Linked DNA regions of Homo sapiens. The protein of the gene in region 5 interacts with the protein of the main gene of each other region in a pairwise test. Each region holds a gene or a part of one and is shown on either strand. Other genes may lie near its edges. The genes, in order: PTCHD1, ZSCAN1, CABP5, BOLA2 and ANKRD55.

Evidence for each region.
Region 1: the proteins of ANKRD55 (region 5) and PTCHD1 interact in a two-hybrid assay, tested with the Homo sapiens proteins (one study listed by BioGRID and IntAct).
Region 2: the proteins of ANKRD55 (region 5) and ZSCAN1 interact in a two-hybrid assay, tested with the Homo sapiens proteins (one large-scale study listed by BioGRID and IntAct).
Region 3: the proteins of ANKRD55 (region 5) and CABP5 interact in binary tests that used the Homo sapiens proteins (3 or more experiments, as listed by UniProt).
Region 4: the proteins of ANKRD55 (region 5) and BOLA2 interact in a two-hybrid assay, tested with the Homo sapiens proteins (one large-scale study listed by BioGRID).

What each region holds. Positions count from the first base shown.
Region 1 is NC_000023.11:23,341,344-23,344,864, reverse strand, and holds part of PTCHD1 (patched domain-containing protein 1), read right to left. Parts: intron 1-3,521. UniProt on the Homo sapiens protein: Required for the development and function of the thalamic reticular nucleus (TRN), a part of the thalamus that is critical for thalamocortical transmission, generation of sleep rhythms, sensorimotor processing and attention. Can bind cholesterol in vitro.
Region 2 is NC_000019.10:58,032,589-58,036,844, reverse strand, and holds the start of ZSCAN1 (zinc finger and SCAN domain-containing protein 1), read right to left. Parts: upstream 2,821-4,256; 5' UTR 2,684-2,820; intron 2,103-2,683; exon of another isoform or gene 876-2,102; 5' UTR 834-875; exon of another isoform or gene 363-833; coding exon of another isoform or gene 352-362; intron 1-351. UniProt on the Homo sapiens protein: May be involved in transcriptional regulation.
Region 3 is NC_000019.10:48,037,563-48,041,083, forward strand, and holds part of CABP5 (calcium-binding protein 5), read right to left. Parts: intron 3,187-3,521; coding exon 3,043-3,186; intron 1,756-3,042; coding exon 1,646-1,755; intron 1-1,645. UniProt on the Homo sapiens protein: Inhibits calcium-dependent inactivation of L-type calcium channel and shifts voltage dependence of activation to more depolarized membrane potentials. Involved in the transmission of light signals.
Region 4 is NC_000016.10:29,453,073-29,455,590, forward strand, and holds BOLA2 (bolA-like protein 2), read right to left. Parts: upstream 1,182-2,518; coding exon 1,119-1,181; exon of another isoform or gene 1,042-1,118; coding exon 944-1,041; intron 661-943; coding exon 561-660; 3' UTR 521-560; downstream 1-520. Other genes in the region: BOLA2-SMG1P6 protein, read right to left, coding at 944-1,003, 1,119-1,379; SLX1B (structure-specific endonuclease subunit SLX1), read left to right, coding at 1,671-1,858, 2,326-2,377, 2,472-2,518. UniProt on the Homo sapiens protein: Acts as a cytosolic iron-sulfur (Fe-S) cluster assembly factor that facilitates [2Fe-2S] cluster insertion into a subset of cytosolic proteins. Acts together with the monothiol glutaredoxin GLRX3.
Region 5 is NC_000005.10:56,101,750-56,104,345, reverse strand, and holds part of ANKRD55 (ankyrin repeat domain-containing protein 55), read left to right. Parts: intron 1-1,759; coding exon 1,760-1,852; intron 1,853-2,596.

The DNA.
Region 1 (3,521 bases), on a different chromosome or scaffold from region 5:
TTGGCATGCTGTGCTGTGAGATGTGGTGAGGAGAGCCCTGAAACCAGAGCCCGCAGCCTCTCAGAACCTTTAATTCAAAAGGCACTTCCCTGGGCAGGAAGTGAAGGCTTTTTTTGTGTGCAAAGCCCCATCAGGCATGAAGAGTAGGTTCTGAGCCCAGAGGAACCACGTTGGTGTGCTGGAATGCAATGCACCCATCCCCATCCGCAGCTCTGCCTGCCTAAGAACTTTCTGCAGGTAGAGGAGCTGCATGCTCAGCAGTAGGTTGAATCCAATTGTCTGTAATGACTCAGATGGAGTCATTAAAGACCAACAAATTGGCAATATGAGTATTGAATGTAGCTTGAGCACCCATTATTGCCTGTTGGATCAAAGAAAAAAGTGGCTACATGTGTATTACTCAACAGGCAATAATGGCTTTGAAAGAGCTGGCACATGTGAGGAAATAGCAGTCATTTTCAAAGTAAATAGTAATAATGATAACACACTTTACAGAAGGCTATGGTTACACAGTGCCTTCACATACTTTATCTCATTCTATCTTTACCTTAAGTGGGTGAAAGAGATGCTATTACACCCAGTGCAAATAAGGAGCGTGTTTCTCAGGGAGGTTAGGTGACTTGCCCAAAGATACATACTTAGGAGAACTGGAACTTGAACTTGGCTTTCCTGATTCTAAATCCAGTTTTCTGTTTACAACAGTTAAATTTGAGCCTTGCTACTCCAAGTGTGTTCTGCTGATCTGTAGCATCAGCATCACCTCAGATCTTGTTAGAAATGCAGACTTGCAGTTCCCACCCCAGACCCTTTGAATCAGTCTGTATTTTAGCAAGATGCCTAGGTGACGTGTGTGCATGTTAGAAAGTCTGAGAGCAATCAAACAATCTTTACTCAGTAGGACTACTTGCCTATACCACAAGACCAAAAACAAAATCCAACAACTCAAACCTCATACAATTAAGGTATAAATATCACAAAATGTTCTTGAGCATTTATAATGACAGCTCTATAGCAGAGATGCATTATTTTTTCTTGAGACAATTAGAAAGAATTGACAAAGCCATGGTATTAGTGACAGCAGGAGAGCCTCATGGAGGAATGGGTAAAGGAATCTTTATCTTCCACGCTGAAAAATTAGCAGTTTTAGTGTTTCCATTAAACTCACAGAAATATGCTGATTTTGTACCAGTATCATTTTCTTTTAAGTTTGCCTCTTAGAACAATACTTTCTGTTCCTCTGGGCTAACTTTTAAGAAGAGTGGGACTAAGCAACATCAGAATGGTGATCTCCTGAACACTGGTGCTATGGTCAGGAAAACCACTTGTCCTTGATGTTTTCTTTTAAGTGTGTTTCCTATTTACATTTGAATATGGGTGTGGCCAATGTTTTGAGACTTTTCTTTAAGTAAATAAGGGAATGTGTAGTGTGGGGACTTGGGTTCCAGGGTGCTCACTGGGAACTGCACAGGGATCCACCCTCCCACATGGAAATGCACCACTGATTGGGGACTGAGGTCAAGTTCATACCCTCCCAAACTGTACTTGGACCAGAGAAGGTTGTCAGATATTTGGTTTTCCAAGAATTTCTCCTCATATAAATGGCAGCAGATCTGGAAACAGAATGGATGCTTATTGCTTATCAACAAGTTTGAAACCAAGATTTGTCAAAGATGAAAAATGAATATAGAGCACAAGAAATCACATGGTCATGCTACCAGGCAAAATTATATTTGACCAAAATAAATCAATAGGGAGGCAGAGCACATTTTCCATCTTACAAGCTATAAACCAGTAACAATTTATTAAGCACCTGCTGCAAACTCCACATTATGCTAGGCTCTAGGAGAGATCTGGCAGTGTCAGACATTGTTCCTGCCCCTGAAGAGTTCATTACCTCTCTTAAGAGAAACGATCACATGACAATATAGCAAATTACATAAGAGTCTACAGCTCTGCATTAAAGAATGTGTATAAGAATGAAAGCCCAATAGATTTAAGGGAGAGAAGAAGCCATGAATCTGAGAAAGCCTCATAAAGTAGAAGGCATGTGAACTGGTCCTTAAAGAGAGGAGGGAGGGCACTTTTAGGGAGAACAACAAAAGTAGATGTGTGAAGATGGGGGCCTGCAGACTTCTGTATTCATAAAGGTGAGAATGAATATGTGCCTCTCAAATGTAGAGGTCTGGCATCTAAAACCACACATCCTGTTGGTGTCTAGGCCCTGTTTGGAGTCATCTTTACCAGCATCCACTGGCACTTGTCAAACTTGGGAATAACTAAATAGCTATGCTGGATGATTCTTAACTGTAAGCTTCATGGAGACAGGGTCATAGCCATCTTGTTGAGTAAAGGGATGAATATCCATTCCCTAGAAACGGGGCACTAAATCTCTCGATGTATAACTCTAGATGAATATAAGACCCTTAGGGCAGATGCTCTCAGGGTCCCACCCATATAGTCTCAGCTCACACTCACCTCTCCATGCTAAGGTTGCTTGCCACAAACACCTGTAGCTCTGTACCCAATTCTTTTAAAAAAAAAAAAAAAAAAAAAATATATATATATATATATATATATATATATATATATATATATATAGGGAGAAACACAGCATATGAAAATGCCAGAAATTTAATGCTTCTAAATGTAGTTGAATCAGCCGATGATGGCTGGAGTTGGGGAGAAAATATTCAGCTTCTTTATCCACAACTGAGATTTCTCCAACACATTCTACAGTGTCTCCCAGAGTTCCCTAGTGAGACTGAGCCCCAGTTGCCCACAGTAGACACTTGCTTAATAATACTCTCTTGATTGGCTTCCTGCTACTCACTGTTTTACTTCCCCACTCCCCTATCAGCCTTTTCTGATATCACCTCCCAAGATAACCGACTGCACTTACATAAATCATCTTAACTGTACTTGAAGCCTATGAATTAAACCTAAAGTGGAAGACCTAACAATGGGGATCTTTCAAAATAGCAGAAACAATATTCTCAAGAGGATTTCTTAGAGAGCAAGAAGATAAAAATAGCTTTTTCTAGTTCCTCACTGCCTCCTTTTGTTCAAAATATGAATTCAGAAGTTGCAAGCACAACATATTATTCAGGGCTTCCCGTAAGAAATAACAACTGGTGTTGATTTTCTTTTTTTCCTTTTCTTGTCTTTTAAAGGTTAGCGATTACTCACCTCCCCTGCTGGTCATTAAATCAGTCTGGCAGGATTCCTCGGTAGTTCTGTGGCCTTCCGGGTATGTGGCGGAGACACAGGCAGTGCTGCAGACAGGCCTGCTTGCTGTGATGTGCTATCAAGCAGGTGACTTCAAAGGTCTGCTTTAAGCCTATCTCAAGTATCACTTGGGGCTCACACTGAGCCCCGAAATCAGGTACCAGATGGCACATCCCACAAAGTCAAAGTTGATCAGCTCACCAGCATCTCACATTTCCCTGGCTTTTGTGCCAAGGGACTGGAAACACTCAGGTAGAAAACAAATAACTTCTGTTAGCTTACTTCTCCTTCTCGTA
Region 2 (4,256 bases), on a different chromosome or scaffold from region 5:
CGTGGTGGTGCACACCTCTAATCCCAGCTACGTGGGAGGCTGAGGCAGGAGAATTGCTCCAACCCAGGAAACAGAGGTTGCAGTAAGCCAAGATCGCACCACTGTACTCCAGCCTGAGTGACAGCGTGAGATTCCATCCCAAAAAAAATAAATAACCAAAAATGAGTTGGGCGTGGTGGCACGCACCTGTAATCCCAGCTACTCGGGAGGCTGAGACAGGAGAAATGCTTGAACCCAGGAGGCGGAGATTGCAGTGAGCTGAGACTGTGCCACTGCACTCCAGCCTGAGCGACAGAGTAAGACTCTGTCTCAAAAAAAAAAAAAAAAAAGAAAAGAAAAAAAAGAAGTTACCTTTTGTACATTTTCCAAGCCGACTATGGTGAACATATAACTGAAGAAAACATTAAAAGTTGTAAAAATAAAAATAAGCAGGGAGGTTTCGTTTGTTTGTCTTTAACAATTGTACTCTGGACTGATCCGCTGGTGAGAATATAAATTGGCACGACCTTTCTGGAAAGCACTGTGGCCATTTATATATCAAGAACACTTGGTAGACTGCGTGCAAGATGCGAGATTCAGGCACCAAGATTCACTACAAAAGTGCCCAACAGTTGAACGTGGTGGGATCAACTACCTCCCCCATCATGTGATGGGAGTATTCAACCGTGCCCAGTACACAACACTATGACATGACCACGGGGAGTAGACACATGATGTACAGATGACATGAGGCACAGGGAACGTGGGATGCAGGATGATGCGTGAGTGTCATAGAAAGGGAGTCCTGGGAAGACGCCCATGGGGGGCGGCCAAGTGCTTTGTGCTGTTCATACTTCTCTGAATCTCCTCCAAATGGTGTCGGGCTCCCATGTGACCTTCATCAACATGGAAAAACAAAACAAAACAAGACATCTTTAGGAAGGATTTTTGACCATATGGGAAATGCTTATGACAAGTGAAAAGGAGGGATTCCATGGGATTTTTCCCTCTTCATCCTCTGCTGCATTTTTCATACACTCTGCAGTTCTCGTGCATCTGGTTTTACAATCCAGGAGAAAGGAGAGGTGCAGGGTGGCAGAAAGGCAACTCACGGGGACTGTGCCCAGCCAGCCATCTTCGAGTCAGCGTACCCGGCCACCTGCACCCTGATTGGGAAACTACCAGCTTGGTCTTCCCTGCCAAGGCCACAGGCAAAAATGCTCTCTTATGTTGTATTCACACTTTTATATATGTAGTTTTGAATAAGAAAAAAGGGCCTATTTTGAAGCTCCACAGGTTCAAGAAATCCCTTTGCCCTGGGGCCTCAGACCTTATACTCTCTCAGGTGCTCATGGCAGCTCACCCTGGAGACTCTAGGGAGGGGGGCTGTAGCCCCTCAGCATCCTCCAGGGTCCTGGGCTGAGGTCTGTGGGAGGAGATGCTAAGTTTATCAGGGATGAGGGTAAAGAGGAGGTCTTAGCAGAAGGCACCAGAGGTCCATGGGTGTGTCTGGGGTCTATATGGGGGCTGATGTGGAACACCTAGGCCAATGTGGGGGTACCTGAGCTGATGAGAGTCCTGGACTGATGGGTGGCTGTTTCTGGAAGATGAAGAGGGCCTGGGATGATGTGAAGGGGACTGAGGTCTACATGGCTGGTGAGGAGGATCTGGGCCCCCCCATGGGCAATGCTGTGGTGGCCCTGGGGTCCTAGAAGTCTACTTTGGTAGGGGTCTCTGATTAATGTTGGGGATGTGTGTGTGTGAGAGAGTGTCACTTGGAGGGCTCAGTGCCTGTGGAAGGGCCAGGTTCACCTGGCATGGGCACTGAGATCTGCAGCCCGAGCCCCAAATTCTATTGCGGGGATGGGCAGAAGGGCTTTGCCGCTGATGCCGGATGCTTAGTGACATAGAAGACGTGTTCACTGCGCCAGTCAGTGAATGGTTCTGGCTTTGAGAAGGGGGCTTACAGTGGGGAGGGCGTTGGGAGCTTAGGATGCCACACGGAGGAGTTCCATAATAAACGAGCTGGGGAAGTGTGCAAGGGCAGCGCACTGGGAATACAGGGGAGGGGCAGCGACGACGGCTGTGGACGGCTGGTTGGGGGGAGGATGGTGGGGTGATTGGGTGGGGGATGGGTCGGGGGCGGCTGTTCAGGAGGGAGATGGGCCTGGGGCGGGGAGGGGGAGCTTGTAGGGAGAGAGACGGGTCGGGGGCTGCTGTTCCAGTGGGGGATGGGCCCAAGGGGCCGGGTAGGGAGGGAGATGGGTCCGGGGGCGGCTGTTCAGGAGGGAGATAGGTCCCGGGATGCTGATCAGGTGTGGAAGGGAGAACTTGGACGCGGCCGAGCGGTGTTTGGGCGGGCAATGGGGGTACGTAGAGGGGCTTCGGCCTCAAACGGACAGGCGGATGCCAACAGGGGTCGGGGTCCCTGCGGAAGGGGCGGCCCCAGCCCCCCCAGTCCCCGCCCCGCGTGGCCTCTAGCCTTCCCCTTCCCTCCCCTACGGCGACCTCAGGACTCCCGATGGGCTCTGGAACCCCGGCCCGGCCCGCCCCCTCCCGGGCCCGGGCCCGCCTCCCCCGACGCGCGCCCCTGGACCGCGATCCCGGGCCAGCTCCCGCCGACGCGGCGCCGAGACCCTCCCGGGTGGGCGTCCCGATGGACGCTCTGGCGGGCGGAGGGACGGATGGGCCGCGGCGGACTCACCGCGCGCGGGCTTCGCTCGGGCCTGGGCCACTCGGTCATGGCGACCCCTGGGCTGGCGAGCGCGCCCAACGCCGCGGGCGGACCCCATCCCCGCACCCTGCGCGCCGCGGGCGGCCGCCATTGGTCCGCTGGATCACGCCGGGCGTCGGTGACAAGTCACCGCTGCGGGACTCCCGGGCAGGGGCGGGGCTGTGACGCACGAGGCGGCCGAGGCCAATCAGAAGCCGCCTGGGATGAGCGCCCCGCCCCCGCCGTGCCCTCCAGTTACCTCGGGCCGCGGTTCCAGTCGCCTTGGCAACGGGTCGCGCAGCGTCAGGGACGCTGCTGCGGAAAGTGGAGACGGTGGCGGCTGCGGGGATGCGCATGTACGATGGGGCCGCGGGGCAAAACGACGGCATTCCAGACACGCAACCGTTTTATACAGTGTCCAAGAGTAGTATGTTAAAACATTGTTTTTAATATAAATATGTTTAGTACAAGTATGTCCCAGACTAGGATCGCCACTCTTAGCAAATAAAAATACAGGACGTCGGCCGGGCGCGGTGACACGCCTGTAATCCCAGCACTTTGGGAGGCCAAGGCAGGCGGATCACGAGGTCATGAGTTCGAGACCAGCCTGACCAATATGGTGAAACCCCCGTCTCTACTAAAAATACAAAAATTACCTGGGCGTGGTGGCGCATGCCTGTAATCCCAGTTTCTCAGGAGGCTGAGACAGGAGAATCACTGGAACCGGGGAGGCGGAGGTTGCAGTGAGCCGAGATTGCTCCATTGCACTCCAGTTTTCCAGCGTGGGTGACAGAGCGAGACTCCGTCCCCCCACCCCCAAAAAAAAGAAAGAAAAAAGAAACCTCAGTTATATGTAAACTCAAGAAAAACAAGGAGGCCGGGCGCGATAGCTCACGCCTGTAATCCCAGAACTCGGGAGGCCGAGGCAGGCGGATCACCTGAGGTCGGGTGTTTCAGACCAGCCTGGCCAACATGGTGAAACCCCGTCTCTACTAAAAATACAAAAATTAGCCAGGCATGGTGGTGCGTGCCTGTAATCCCAGCTACTCGGGAGGCTGAGGTAGGAGAATCGCTGGAACTGGGGAAGCCGAGGTTGCAGTGAGCCGAGACCTGCCAACGCACTCCAGCCTTGCCTGGGCAACAGAGTGAGACTCTGTCTCAAAAAAAAAAAAAAAAAAAAAAAAAGAAAGAAAGAAAAAGAAAAACAAGGAATTAGTATCAATGTGTCCTATATTTCATATACTTTAACGAAACCTTACATAAGAACATTTCATATAAATAAGTTTTAATATTAATGTCTACAATGTAACCATGTGCCAGAATAGTAGGGTTCCACAGATACTCGTTTTGTATCTGAAATCAGGTGGGGGTGAGATCATGATGCAAGGAGGGTCCTCAGCTCTGGGACTGAGCTCAGGATAGCTGAAGCTGCTCATTGCTGAAGAAGAAGCAGGAGAGTGTGAGCTAAGAAAAGAGAGGAGGACCCACCTCCAGGGGGTCCAGCATCTGCTGGACAGCTGTTTATTGAGGGCCTATGTGTACCAGGCACTGTTCTGGACACTGG
Region 3 (3,521 bases), on a different chromosome or scaffold from region 5:
TGGCCTTAAAATTTTCTAGTAGTGACGTTTAAAAAAATGTTAAAAGGAACAAATGAAACTAATTTTTAATATTCTCTTTTATTTGACACAATATATCTAAAGTGTTATCCTTTCATCATGTAATCCACTTAAAAATTATTAATTTAGCTATGTAAGTAGCATTCTTTTTATACACACTGGATTTCATAAGGCAGTAAGTTCTAAGTTCTTAGTAGGTGCTTAGCATGCTTAATTAGGATACTTAGCCTAGAAGTTTACTTAAGTATACAAGTACGTTATGCTAATTATATTAGCATACTAAGTCTTAATACAGTGTTCACGTTACACTTACAGCACTTCTCAATCCAGACAACTTTTTCTTTTTGTTTTGAGATGGAGTTTCACTCTTATAACCCAGGCTGGAATGCAATGGTGCGATCTCAGCTCACTGCAACCTCTGCCTCCCAGGTTCAAGCAATTCCCTGCCTCAGCCTCCCAAGTAGCTGGGATTACAGGCGCCCACCACCATGTCTGGCTAAATTTTTTTGCATTTTTAGTAGAGACGGGGTTTCAGCATCTTGGCCAGGCTGGTCTTAAAGTCCTGACCTTGTGATCCACCTGCATCGGCCTCCCAAAGTGCTGGGATTATGGGTGTGAGCCACTGAGCCCGGCCAGCTGTAGATCTTTATAAGAAGCTGGGGGAGGCACTTGCACAGCCAATAGGTGGAGGCCTCCTAGGATTTGAACCCATGTTTGCCTGGTTCCAAATCCTTTGCTCCCAAACACTCTACTACTCTTTATTTTCACCTTGTGTTGCTGAAAGCTCTCAGAACGAGAAGGTATTTTATCAGGGGATATAAGCAAGTCTGTTATTCTCACTGGGTCTGATATTTTTTAGTATGTCTGCAGCAAGTGGTTCGTACCAGATGACCACTTTGCATTCCCTTCTGGGATCTCAAATTCTTGGATTCTTCCTGTTACAGGCACTAAGAATAGAGGCCCTGGCCAGGCACGGTGGCTCATGCCTGTAATCCCAGCACTTTGGGAGACCGAGGCAGGTGGATCACTTGAGGTCAGGAGTTCGAGACCAGCCTGGTCAACATGGTGAAACCCCGTCTCTACGAAAAATACAAAAATTAGCTGGGTGTGGTATCGCGCACCTGTAATCCCAGTTACTTAGGAGGCTGAGACAGGAGACTGGCTTGAACCCGGGAGGCAGAGGTTGTAGTGAGCCGAGATTGCACCATTGCACTCCAGCCTGGGGACAACAGTGAAACCCCGTCTCAAAAAAAAAAAGTCCTAACATTTATTCTAGAGATGGCAGGATCTTGGATAAGATTTATAATCTTCATGAGCCTCACTTTTCTCATCTGTTTAATTGGGATACATGACTGCTTGCTTACTCCTAATGTGTTTGTGTGCGTGTTTTTGTTTTTGTTTGTTTGTTTTTTTGAGGATTAAATCAGATAAAGTATACAGAGGCATTGATCCATTGCAGGTGTTTGGAATACGTTATTTTTCTTCCCTATTTATTGATCCCACCATGGCTGGAAAAAAAAAGGTGGGGGCCTGGTTGGTGGGTGCTGTCCATGGCATTGGCTAATTACAGGCAGACCTCAGAGGGTCTGCCTCTACCATCACCAGCACCATGACACTGTTAACTCACCTCCTTGAAGGCATCCCGCATCTCCTGGACACCGATCATCCCAGCTGTTTCTGCAAGCAATTTGGGGGTCATCAGCTCCACAAAGTCATCAAAGTCTACACGGCCACCCACTGAGGAAGATGGCACAGGATTAGCGAGACCCCACAAGCCCTGGCCTTCCATTACCTCACTTTGTGCTTCGAGTCAGTTAGATCAGCTCCCTTCTCCCTGCCCTATAAGAGCCGTCTTTGACTTCCTCCCTCCAGCAGCTAACTCCAAGCTCCAAACTCATGTCCCTCTAGCCTGAACAGGAGTGGATAGGGTGTGGTATGGTGGAAGTAACTGCCTGTGTGACTTTCAGACAGTTGGTTAAGATGTTTCTCCTCCTCTGTAGACCTGTACAAAGAGGAGCATGAATTAAATGAGCATACAATTTTTTTTTCAGATATGAATACTATCATTACCTTGAATTCAACCTTGTTTAGTTCGTTACATGCCCAGAAGCAAACCCAATAGCTTTTTTTTTTTTTTTTTTTTTTTTTTTTGAGACAGAGTCCCACTCTGTTGCCAAGGCTGGAGTGCAATGGTGCGATCTCGGCTCACTGCAACCTCTGCCTCCCGGGTTCAAGCGATTCTCGTACCTTAGCCTCCCGAGTAGCTGGGATTACAGGTGCACGCCATCACGCCTGGCTAATTTTTTGTATTTTTAGTAGAGACGGGGTGTCACCATGTTGCCCATGCTGTTCACAAACCCCTAACCTCAGGTGATCTGCCCACCTCAGCCTCCCAGAGTGCTGGAATTACAGGTTACAGGTGTGAGACACTGCGCCCAGCCTCAATAGGAATTTTATTCTAGCTAAAATCTAAAAATCAGTTATGATCTCCATCCAAAAATCCATCCATCCTTTTTGCAGCTGTATTCACCAACATTAGCTCCAGCTCCAAGTTTGTTTCCAACATCCAATACAGCTCCAATCTCGTGCTCCACTGATGAATCTTAGTGGTGATAGTAATAACTACCTTTAATAAGAATTTACTGGAGGCTAAGACTTTAACTGCATCAGCATCTTTATCTCTTCCTTCTCTTCCTTTCCACAGTCCCATGAGGTAAGGAGAGAGGCATCTTCCTCTATAGATGAGGAAATGGAAACTGAAGAGTAGCGGATAACTTCACTTTTCAAAATGACTGTAATTAGTAAATAATAGAACTGAGATTTGAACCCAGACCTATCTCTAAAAGCTTTTAACCACTTCAAATGCTGCCTTCCTGAGTCGAATCTGACCTGTTTTCTTCCAGACTTCTAGTCCCTCTCATCCTCCTCTCCACCCCCAACTCTACTCTTAACCTCTACATCCTTCCCAATTCTGCCCTGATCCCTTCCCTAACCCCGGCCATCCCTCCCATTCCCTGGACTCACGGTTCATGCGGATTTGCTGGCCGAGCTCAATCAGTTCCATCTCCGTGGGCATGTAACCCATCGTCCTCATGAGATTCCCCAGATCCTTACAAGAGATGAACCCATCTCGGTCCTTATCGAACTCAAGAAATGCTTCCCGCAGCTCTGAAAGTTAAGAGAGAACTTTGGGGGAACTTGAAGCAGTCAGTGGGGAAGAGTGGCATCTCTTGAAGCTATCAATGAGGCTCCAACTAGAGACTCCTTAAAGGAGCGTACATTAGAAACAAAACAAAACAAAACAAAAAAACCAAGGCCGGATGTGGTGGCTCATGGCTGTAATCCCAGCACTTTGGGAGGTCGAGGTGGGTGGATCACCTGAGGTGAGGAGTTTGAGGCCAGACTGACCAACATGGCAGAACCCCATCTCTACTAAATACAAAAAAATTAGCTGGGCATGGTGGCTCATGCCTTTGATCCCAGCTACTAGGGAGGCTGCCTCA
Region 4 (2,518 bases), on a different chromosome or scaffold from region 5:
GGGCTATGGGGCCACTGGAACCTTCTCCAGTGGGTCTGAAAACATCAGCATTCCAGGAGTTGATGAGCCCCTACCTGGGCACCACTCCCTCTTGGGCCTGAGAAGGCCGGGGGGAACCTGCAAGGAATATGTGGAATTCTATATGGTGCCTCTGATACTGCGGTAATGTCAGGGAGAGGTTTGTTCAACTGGTCAGGGCCCTGAAACCCCGATCACTTTCTCATCTCTGCATCTTGAAGGCTAGCAGAGAGGAGGAACCCTGAGCTCTCTAGGAGGTGGGTAGGTGGTGGCAGTACAGACTCCTAGATGTCTAAACGGAGTTGCAGAGAGAAGGCTTTCTCGGTAGACCCTGGAAGGGACTTTTACGGTAGAACTTTCATTTTACAAGCAGGGATAGAGGCCTAGATGGGGACAGAGACGTGTCCAAGGTAAAACAATGGACGGAGGCAGGGCAGGGAGAGGCCAGGTCCTAGACTCGGCCTCAGCACCCCTCCCACACACACATCGACACAGAAGCTGGTCCAGATTTATAATTTAATGGCTGTGCAGATCCCAGTCCCTCATTTCTGTCGCTCACGTGCCCACTGGTCTGGGGTCAGGGTTTTCTGTTCAAAGGCATGGATGTGCGGGAGCTCTTCTGCTAGGCACGCGTTCACCAGCCTGGGGCGAGAGATGGGGTTAGGAAAAGGCCAGCGGTGATCGCACACCCCGAGGCTAGGGTGACCCAAGAGACTGGTGTCCCCAAGGTTGTAGTCCCCAGGCCGTGGGAACACGTACTTGGAGAGAGGGTCTACATCGAAATACTCGAAGCAGGGGTCACGAAGGCGGGATCCTCAAGGTCCCTGAGCCACGCCAGGGGGAGTGCGGGAGTCAGGTTGCAGGGGTAGGGGGAGTGGCTGGGGTTGTGGTACAGGAGCTAGGCAAGGTGCTCCCAGGGCCTTACCTGTGTCTCTGAAGCAGCGGTTTCCCCTCGAACTTGGCCGACACCACCAGGACTCGGAAGCTACAGGAGCAACGGTTGAGGGTCGTGTCCTCCACCTCCTACCGAGCGGAAGAATATGAATGGTGCCGAACCCGCCCCCCGAGCTCTTTTCCCCTTGTCCGGCGGCTCAACTCACCACATGCTCCGCCTCCAGGTCCCGCTGCAGCTTCTCGCGGAGGTATTCGGCGCTGAGTTCCATGGCGGCAGTCCAGCTGGAACGGCAGCCCAGCAGGGACACAACCCCAGCTCGGGCGCCGGCCACGCTACCTTGCTGCCTTACAGGAGCCACTTCCGCTGGAAAACTCACTTCCGCCCTTACTAAGGCGTACGTCAACGCAGTACTTCCGCCCTCAAGCAGCCGGGCTTTCCAGCGGTCCAGGCTTTTCGCGCTTGCCATGTGTCAGCCAATCAGAGCCTGAGGAAGGTGGGACTCGGGCGGAGCCGATGCTGAATGGTACGCGCTCGCCGACTGGACAGCAGTCTGGCTTCCGCGGTCGGACTTCTACACCCGCCTCCAGACAGGAGAGGGGCACGTACCGGCGCTACGGCTTCCTGCAGGCTGCCTCCGGATAGTCCCCGAGAGCTTGTTCCGAAGCAAGCACCCTGCAGCCCTAGCGATCCAGCCCTCCCCTGGACCCTAGGTCACGGCAATCAACCCCCTGCTGTGGTTCCCGAACCCCAAGGCCCGATGGGTCCCGCGGGGGTCGCGGCGAGGCCAGGGCGCTTTTTCGGCGTCTACCTGCTCTACTGCCTGAACCCCCGGTACCGGGGCCGCGTCTACGTGGGGTTCACTGTCAACACTGCTCGTCGGGTCCAGCAGCACAATGGGGGCCGCAAAAAAGGCGGGGCCTGGCGGACCAGCGGGCGAGGGCCCTGGTGAGAGGGGGAGGCCTTCTGTGCCGGGAGGAAGGCGTCCCAGAGGAGGCGGACCCCGCGGGGCACAGGCCTGTTGAGAAGGACCGGCCAGGACTGTGACAGAGGCGGGGCGTCTGTGGTGGGGACGGGGCCTGTCGCAGGGGAGGAGCGTGACGGGGAGGCGGTGCCCGGGGCATCTCCGCGGCGGAACTCAGGGAAGGAGCTAGCTGGGGCGGGGGTGATGATCCAGGCTGGGTTCCAGCATAGGGCTCTTGGTGGGCACGCTGGGGTCGGGTGGAATGCAGGAGAGAGAGGAGGTGGGACAGGTGGGTACCTGGGCTGGAGGCAGGGCCTGAGGTGGGCAGGTGCAGAGGGCTGCACTTCTCGGCTGAAGCCGGGAATGAGGACCCCGCTCTCGGGTGGGATTGGAGGGGACCCGCGGCTGAGGCGCTGGGCTGCGACAGGGACATCACGGTTCTCCTCCTCAGGGAGATGGTGCTCGTCGTGCACGGCTTCCCGTCCTCCGTGGCCGCCCTTCGGGTAAGGAAGGAGACCGGGCAGCGGCGGCCGGGTGAGGGCTTGGGTTCCGCCCCTCGCTCCGAGCCGCCCTGATGCCCCTGTACGCCGCCCGCAGTTTGAGTGGGCTTGGCAGCACCCGCACGCCTCGCGCCGCCTGGCGCA
Region 5 (2,596 bases):
TAGGCTGTGTCCCTTCCTAGCGTGTGACTTGAGCACTTTTAGAACTCCTCCAAGTCACAAGGTCCTCATTTGTAAAATGAGGATGATAATAGAATGTATCTCACAAGAAAAAGTGATTGTCAGAGTTAAATAAGATTATGCCTACAGCATTTATCCCTATTCCTGACAAAAGTAAGTGTTCCATAAACATAACTCAAAATTATTATCTCGTTGGTTTTACAAATTTCTGCTCAAGTGTTCATGGATAAATAGTTGTTCGCTAATATAAATTTTCATGTTAATTCTACACAGGAATATTTTCTCTGTAAATAATGGCTCCTGAAGTTATTTGATGTTCAGTGTTCAAAAGGATAAAATATAATGGCAAAATATCCACCAGGGAGACTGGAGATTTAATCTCCATCAACTAACATTGCTGAGGTGGCCGCTTCTGCACAGACCATCCACCATGAGATTCACTTAAACAGATGCAAGTTGTTCTTGGCTAATCCTTTTGTTTTTTCTTTTTTTCTTATGCTATTTTGCTCCAACAGAAGACCCTTAAAGTCTAGGAGCATTGCTATAGCAATTCTGGTTCTTTCTTACTAGACTGATAGGCAAAAGATCAAATAATCTTTTTTTGTTAAGGTCTTTTGAGTACTTTACCCTATAAGCTAAATGCTTTACCCTTGTTCTCCAGTTTAATCCTCATGACAAGTGGAAAAGATATACAATTATTTTCACCATTTTGTATATGAAAAAATTGAGGTGTTGAGAGGTAATATCATTTGCCCAATGTCATATAACTGAAAAGTGGGGAAGCAGGGAATCAAGCCTAATTCTGTTTGACCCCAGAGCCCAACCAAGCTCCTATTCATGACACCATCCAGTCAATTTTAAAATGGATTTAAATCACATTTGTGTGTTCCCTTCTATTTTCAGGTATCGAACATCCGTATCTTAAAGTCAGTAGTACATTGATGAATGTTTAACAGCTAGCTTTCCAGGAGAAAAATCTGTGCTTGCTGATTTTTCACGGTGTAAATACACCCACCATGGCTGATTTCAAGACACTAGTGTGATGTCAAACAGTTCACAAAATTTCTGAAAATGTAACCATCAGCTCTCAAGAGCTGGCTCACATGGTCCATGCACACACCACTGCTTTCTGTCCAAGTTAAAGAATAGGTTTCCTGAGTGCATCTACCCCATTCCGTCTTCCAGGTCAATGATTCTCCATCCTGGCTGCACTTGAATCAGCTGGGAGCTGATAAACAGCTGACACCATGCCCCACCTCCAGAGATTCTGATCTAATAACCTGGGATGTGGCCAGGAAAGCAGTATGTTTTCTAGCTTCTTAGATAATTCCTATGTGCAGCCAGGACTGAGAAACTCTGCTTTAGAAGAAAATACTCTACTCATCACCCACTCATTTCATCAAAGATTTGATGAATATATAAGAGATGCCATATCTATATTATTTCCTTTTTTTTCAACTTTAACTTTTATGGGGTGAGTAACCCAGTGTGTTTCTTTATAAAATTTTATTTAAACTAGTACTCTCAAGAAATGATTTCTAGTACCTTTTTCTATCATTTAAACAGTGACTGGTATATAACAGAAATGCAATAAAGTGTAGCTATCATTGTTTTCATTGTTATTGTTACCACCTTAAATTTAGTGATCTGTAACAACTTTGATGATTCTCTTATCCATTGCATTCTGTAATTTGCACTTGGTTGAGTCTCAAGTAATTGATGCAAATATGTTTATCTTCAGGACAAAATTTTCAGCATCTTTCCCCAAACAGACACAAAATCAGGGATCTTCCTTTCACTCGGAACAACCTAGCTCCCCTACCAGATCAAAAATGTAAGTATTATGAATCTTCCGCAGCTTCCTTTGCAAGTGTTAACATATCTAGACACAACTAAATGTTATTTCCGTTTACTTTCATTTTTCTTTTTTTTTTTTTGAGATGGAGTCTTGCGCTGTCGCCCCGGCTAGAGTGCAATGAACATGATCTCAGCTCACTGCAACCTCCACCTCCCAGGTTCAAGCGATTCCCCTGCCTCAGCCTCCCAAGTAGCTGGGATTACAGGCGCCTGCCACCACGCCTGGCTAATTTTTGTATTTTTTTTAGTAGAGATGGGGTTTTGCCATGTTGGCCAGGCTGGTTTCCAACTCCTGACCTCAAGTGATCCACCCACCTCGGCCTCCCAAAGTGCTAGGATTACAGGCGTGAGCCACCACGCCCAGCCCTACTTTCATTTTTCAAGGGAACATCAGGTGCCAACACTTATAAATTACAGGAAAACAGAGACCATCTTTAAAGCTTTTTTTTAAATGCTTATTTTTTTTAAAAAAATAACACTCCCTCCCTTTAGGAATTTTTGTGTTTGAACTATTGAAACAATAACAAGTTTATTTTTACATGTATTATTTAATGTCTTTAGGAAGGTGCTTTAAAAATTCTCTTTTAAGACTGGCCTCCTGATATCAGTTTCCTTACTATACTGGACAGATAGAAATGTACATCGCCTCTGTACTCACAGTCCATGCATTCCTAAGCAGAAAAAAAAATGCAGTTCATCAGGATTACTTTTGGTATTATTG